2 linked regions of the Homo sapiens genome follow. The protein of the gene in region 1 purifies or fractionates together with the protein of each later gene. This does not show direct contact. Each region holds a gene or a part of one and is shown on either strand. Other genes may lie near its edges.

What was found. The genes of interacting proteins can lie anywhere in the genome.
Region 2: the proteins of ETS2 (region 1) and COP1 purify together in Homo sapiens (affinity purification with western blotting; 3 studies listed by BioGRID and IntAct, with this or other methods). This does not show direct contact.

The regions. Positions count from the first base shown.
Region 1 is NC_000021.9:38,808,929-38,812,428, reverse strand, and holds part of ETS2 (protein C-ets-2), read right to left. Parts: exon of another isoform or gene 2,633-3,500; intron 2,395-2,632; coding exon 2,323-2,394; intron 1-2,322. UniProt on the Homo sapiens protein: Transcription factor activating transcription. Binds specifically the DNA GGAA/T core motif (Ets-binding site or EBS) in gene promoters and stimulates transcription.
Region 2 is NC_000001.11:175,987,287-175,990,786, forward strand, and holds part of COP1 (E3 ubiquitin-protein ligase COP1), read right to left. Parts: intron 2,194-3,500; coding exon 2,076-2,193; intron 1,127-2,075; coding exon 1,002-1,126; intron 1-1,001. UniProt on the Homo sapiens protein: E3 ubiquitin-protein ligase that mediates ubiquitination and subsequent proteasomal degradation of target proteins.

The sequences.
Region 1 (3,500 bases):
TTAAGTTAATATATTAAATACACAAATCTGAAAATAACAGAATCTTACAATGGTGTCGAGAGGAGCCTCAGAGACCCCTTTACCAAACACCTGACCCTCCTGTTACATTGAGAAAAATTCAACTAGGCTGTGTGTGTAAGAAAAATGACCCTTGACAAGGCCGTCTGAGCACAATGCAGTTAAAAGGCAAATGACCCGATAAACACTGAAAAATCAAACAATGAAATACACTACTTTATCTTTGGAAGCATTTATTTTGAAATGTTTGCCATGAAACAATTTAACTGAAACTAGAGATGCTTTTCCACATCAATTCCAATGGTTTGGAAAATAGTAATACATGACAAAATTCCTTAACGTTTCATTTTATAACAAGTAAAGTGTCTTAAAAATGAACCCCCTCCCCGCCCCCAGGCCAGGCGGGGTGGCTTATGCCTGTAACCCCAGTGCTTTATGAGGTTGAGGCCAGAGGATCACTTGAGCCCAGGAGTTCAAGTCTGCGGTGAACTACGATCAAGCCACTGTACTCCCGCCTGGGCAACAGAGAAGGACCCTGTTGCTTAAAACCAAAAACGAAAAAACAAATAAAACAAAACAAAAAAAACCCAAATCACCTACTAAGGGGAAAGATTTCCAAAGGAAATAGGTTTAAAGTTAAACTAAACTATCTGCAGAAAAGAAGAGACACACAGAAAGATAAAACCTTACACTAACTCGATTTCTGAGCATCTTACATAACATTTATGAAAGAAATACCTTTTAATGTAAGACTCATTTGAAAGTAACCGATAATATCTGGATTCATCATCGCCTAAATTGTTGAGGAACACGTGAAGAAAGACTATATTTTTCCAACATAAGCTGGAAATCCCATGTTATGTGTAATACAATGACCCATCTGTTGAGTCATCAATAAGAAAATGTGTAACACATTTACAAATAAAATCGGTTACCCGCTTTCTTTTTAGAAATGCAGAACAATGAATGACGCATTACAAAAGAGGGCAGGCAGAGGCTGGAGCCCAGCCCAAAAAAATCCAAGTCAATGATGACCAACTGCCTGAGATCTACGAGGAAAACCGATCAATCAGGCAAGTGCAAATTACTCATCTGGATTTACAAACTACTTTAGAGCAGAGCTAATTTTGGTGAAACCTCCAATAAACTTTTAAAGTTCCCACAAGCATTGCCCAGGTGACTAAGAAATGCCTTTCCTAACCGTAAATTCTTTTTTTTTTTTTTTAAAGCCAGGAAGCCAAAAGACAATACAAATCTGTGCTTCCTATTTCAACACATCAATTTCAGCAACGACTGCTTCTTTTCAGAAACCGCATAAGCATCGTCAAATTATTTGAATTAATAGAAGGATTTTTCTAAGGGGTGTGGTTTCAACTTAATACCATGATTTCTTGTACCACTTCTGCCATGCTTAAAATGTCCGGCCAAATCAAACAAGCAGACTCACTAGGCTGAAGTTTGATGACCTTTAGAATACTGCAGAAAGGACTGTGCTGAGTTTTGCCTCTTTGGGTCATATCAGACAAATAACCTCAATAATGATATACAAAGGAAAATGTAATATGCCAGAGACGTACATCATCATTATGCAAGACGCTAAACTTTGAGGAGGCCAATTTTAAAATCATGCTTCTGAAACATGTTTACTACATAATACTGAAAACAATCAAATCTTGCTGTCATATTTGGAGAAGACAAGTGGGAGATTACCAGTTTGTGCTACTAAAGAATGTTCCCAAAAGGAATGATGATAGAAGCTACATAAAATGTTTATGCAGCAGAGAGGGCGCTTTCATTTTTCATCTGGTTTTTGGTTTAACATAAGTAGGCCTGCTTGTTCTCTGAGCCAGTAACAGGCTACCTACAATTCCACGGGCGCTGCCCTTTCTGATAGGAGCTGTAGCGGTTGGGTCTGTCTGCCTCTTCTCTCTCATTTCAGTTCTTAAACAGCTTCCCATCAACCAAGGAAACTCCTGGGTAGACAGAAAAGGCAGTAGAGACAGCCTCTCCAGCTGTTTTATTGGGAGTTATAGGATTTTCACCTGGAAGGAGCCTCAGAAAACAAGCTATAAAGGCCTTTGGTTTCATATCGTGGAGGAGAAGAACAACACACATCAAGATACCCATTCTGCAGACCAGAAAACTGAGGACCAGAGCAAGTAAGCAAATAGTCTATAGTCACATGGCCAATAAATTAAGAAGCTAGGGCTACAACCAGTTTTCTGGGACCCAGGCCTTTTTTTTCTTTCCTCCTAGAGATCGAGTTTTCCAATTAAAAAAAAAAATTAAGACTTGCCCACTCACCTTGAGTGTCCCTCTGTAACTGTTAGCCACAGGGGCTACCTGGTCCATATTCTTGATTCCGAAATCATTCATCTTAAAAAAGAAAAAAAAAAAGTCAAAGAGGCAAAAGATTAAGTACACTAAACTCATCATTGGTGGCATCAAGACTTGATCCTGGCTGAGTTCTACAGCTAACAGGTAATTCAAAAGTGAATGCAGGGAATTCTTGTTTAAATGGCTGTCCTCCCAAAGGTCTCAAGAGGAAAGCATTTCTCAGTATCACAATGGGATATGCTGTTTCAGTGATTGAATAATAATGCTGATTCCTCACTGAATTCCACTTAGATGTCACAGAAAAAGTCACTTGCTGGCTGGCTGGTCAGAGCCTCCTTGCTGGGTTAGCAGGGCAAGAGGGCCTGGGTCAGGCTTTTCATTCACATTTCCATGGCCAGCTTAGGTGAGTGCTTGGGTGGGTACAGTGGGGCAGTGGGCCGCCTCCTGTCTGCTCTGGACACAATCAGCTTAACCTGAGAGCTTCAGGACAGCTGCAGGGGTCATTTCTAGAGACAGGAAAGGAGTCCAGGAAGCCCCCTCTCTTCCCTTCCACTCTCCAGGCTGTAAGAAAGCACACACCCAGGGAAGGGATCAAAGGGAGAACTGAAGACCAAACCCCCTTACATGGTCCCAGATCTTCCTGCTTTGAATACAGAGCTCAAAATATTTCTGCTTTGTGTGTTGCTTGGCTGTGCACTTCTTCAAGAGGAACTGATTCCAAGCACGGATCTGCCTTACTTCCTCTGACTGAGTCTTAATCTTCTACTAGGCCTGGGCTAAGCAATATGGTACCCACTTGCCATGTGTGGCTACAGAGCTCTCAACCAGTGGCTAGTACAAATCCACACATACACACTAGCTCTCAAAGACTTAGTGGAAAAAAGAAAAAAGCTCAATAATTTTTATACATACATAATATTTCGAATATATTAGGTTAATTTGAAATACACTGAAATCAATTTCACCGGCTTTATTGTTTTTAACATGGCTATTACAATGAGGCTTGTAATTGGACAATGACATAATAGGCTGAAAATTTATTTGGAGCTCTAAAATGTAATTGTTCAGCCAGGTAAGTTACATATCAGTAAGAAAGATACTTAGATAATAGAGTAACTAAAACTCATTTTCAGAGACCTTGGGTT
Region 2 (3,500 bases), on another chromosome or scaffold:
CTTTACTAATCTAAAGAAACAATCAGTGTTAAATGATACAACAATACTGATAATTCTAAGGCTAAAATTACCCTATAAAATCATTTATAGAGGTTGGTACAAAAGTAATTGTGGGTTTTGTCATTACTTTTAATTACTTTTGCACCAGCCTAATAAGTCTATAGTAGAACCAGAAATATATTATAAGAATCTTAAATTACATTTAGGAAGATTTCCATTTAGAGAGGTAAAAGAAAGTGGCAACACTTACACAGGCAGATTTTCATAGCCTACATAATTTATTTCCATTTCTCAGTATAGGAATTATTCTATTAATGGTCTATGAACTGTATTTTTATTTTTGAGCCATCTATTAAAGATAGAATAATTGTTCCAGATATTTGCTTTGGCAGTCTCATACATATGTGGAGAAAGTCAACTTTGCTGAACAAAGGCCAAGTCATTTAAAAGTATGATCAAAGCTCATCTATTCAGGCATTAGATGTATCAGAGCATTTGAATAATATCAAATTTGATTTTTCTATTTCTTATTTAAATTTGTATAAATTATCAACAATAAAAGCCATAGAATAACAGATCAATGCTATGCAAACAGATTACTTCATGAAGAGAACAGCAGATAGGGGAAAATGAATATCAAGCTTAAGAAGACACATAATGTCTCCAAAATTGGAAATATTACTAACAGAACTTAACCTTTTCTGTCTTCTACACAATATCTAAAGAATTATGTTATAATGGAGAACAACTATAAAACAGTTAAAAATCAGGTGTTCAGGTATTTGAGGTGTTCAGGGTTTCTACACAATAAAAAAGGGAAGGACTAATGCTCTTCTAGTACAACACAAGGAAAATCAGTAGTGCTGGGGCATCATGTCTATTATACTATCTTCTGAGTGCACAGACCATTTCTTGACTTAGTATTTATTCTATTTCCACTGAGTTCAATTTCAATAACAAACACCTGTTAAAAAGTTCCTGGAAACGATGGTTTCACTTACCACAAGCTATATAATCTCCATTGGAAGCCAGGCCTACAAAGTTTTTTTCATTGATATGACCCTTGAAGGAACGTAGGCAGTATGGTTTCCCTACATTCCACAGTTTTAGCTGACTGTCTGTTGAGCTGAGGAAAAGTACAAAGAGTAAGAACTTACTTAAAATTTCTTGGCACGAAACTCATCACTACTAATTAGAGGCAATGCAGTTTGCTGGTTAAGAATGCAGGCTCTGGAGCCAGACTGAGTTAGCACGTTCATCTGTCGGCCAGGCGTGGTGGCTCACGCTTGTATTCCAAGCAATTTGGTAGGCCGAGGCAGGTGGACCACCTGAGGTCTGGAGTTCGAGACCAGCCTGGCCAACATAGCAAAACACCGTCTCTACTAAAAATACAAAAATTAGTCGGGCGTGGTAGCACGTGCCTGTAGTCCCAGCTACTTGGGAGGCTGAGGCAGGAGAATCACTTGAACCTGGGGGGCAGATGCTGCAGTGAGCGGAGATCACACCACTGCACTCCAGCCTGGGTGACAGAGCGAGACTCTGTGCCAAAAAAAAAAAGTTTTCTTTTCAACATATTTAAAGTCACCATGAAATCACAGATAAATGACCATGTCAGTGTAAAAGCCAACCAAGTAATATTTAAAACCAAAAATAATTCTACTACTATACTGCAAGTAGATAAAATACACAGTAACACATGAGTTGACTTTAATAAATAAAATACTTCTCATTCTATTGCATCAACTATGTTGTTTATCTCTTCTTTAGAAGCAATAGCTAAAATCTAATCTGAAGTTCAAATGCAATTAAACATAGGAGGATGAGATAAGGGGGGAGGGTATATAAAAAACTAGTATCTTCAGGATTTTACCCACAATTCACATATAAAAGTGCACAATACAGACCAGAAACCACACTACTTTAATTGGACAAGATTAAAAAAAAAATCTACTATTTAAGAAAAAGTACATATACTCCAATATTATAGTTTACATACACCCTCAGTGACATTACAAGCTGGTAGGTAAGTACAGAGCTCTGTATTAAGCTCAACCTCTGAGGAGAGTAATACTCACGCAGAGACAATTTCCTCACCACTCACAAACTTTGCATAAGAGACTGCTTTACGGTGTCCTTTGAATACCATGATTGGCTGTTTAGTGTTACGAAGATCATAGTAGTGGACACAGTGATCTAAAACAAAACAAAATTAGATAAATGTAGTAAATGCAGAAATGGAAAGCAAAGTTAATTTTAACTGGTTTTTGGTTTTTTCATTAAAAGTTTCACATATGATGTCTAATCTCTAACAGCCAGAAAACAAAGGAAAAGGAATCCTTTTCAAATATAAGATTGGCTCTAGAAAGAGAGTATTAAGGGGTCAAAATAACTGGAAACTTAAAAATCAATCTTTGTTTTAATGATGTCATGAAAAAAATGTTAATATAAACATTATGGGACATCTGGATAAACATAATGCTATATAATCTTATTTCCCATATTTGTTTTAAAAAACCATTATTTAGATATATTTTGCATATAATAAAATACACACACTAAAAATATTGTATGCAATTCAACGATCTTTACTAAATTTAACCAGCAGTTCAACTATTACCATAAATCAGTTTTAGAGTATTTCTGCACTCCGATAAGATCACTCATTTGGCATCCACCATCACAGGCAGTCTCTATTCCTGTCTGTCTCTATCACTAATTTCTACTCTAACCTTTATTATTTCCTTCCTTCTGCTTGTCTTCAGTTAGCTTTGTTATTCTTTTTAAAGACAGACACTTAAGGATACACAATTCTCTATCAACACTGCTTTGGCTGATACCACAAATTGTGATATGATGTGTTTCCATTTTCATTCAGTTTAAAATCCTTTTACATTTCCTTTGTTATTTCTTCTTTGACTAATGGTTATTTAGTAATGTGTCATGTAATTTCCAAATACTTGCAGATGTCTCAAAGTAACTATTGTTGATTTTTAATTTAATTCCATTTTGGTCAGAAAACTGTTTTGTATGTCTTCAATCATTTTAAATTTATTGACAGAAAACTGTTTTGTATGTCTTCAAGCATTTTAAATTTATTGACTTATTTTTAGTCTTAAATATGGTGTCCCCTGGAGACTGTTACTAACACTTGCTTGAGAAGAATGTGCATGCTTCTACTGTTGGCTGAAGTGGTCTTTGGATGTCTGTTATGTCAGATTGACAATGTTATTCAAGTCTTCTAAAACTCTGCCAATTTTCTGTCCAGTTTTTCTATGAAATATCAAAAGTGGAGTATTTTTCAACAACTTCAGTCAAAATATCTGTTTTTCCCTTAAATATCACAGATTTTCTTTTCATATATCTACAAAAAGTTTGTTTTGAGGTGTGTTGATAATTGATGTATCTTTTCACTATTGATTCTTTTACCATTATAAAATGTCTTTGTTTCTAGTACTGATTTCTACTCTAAGTATATTCTGTTCGACCTAAATATAGCCATT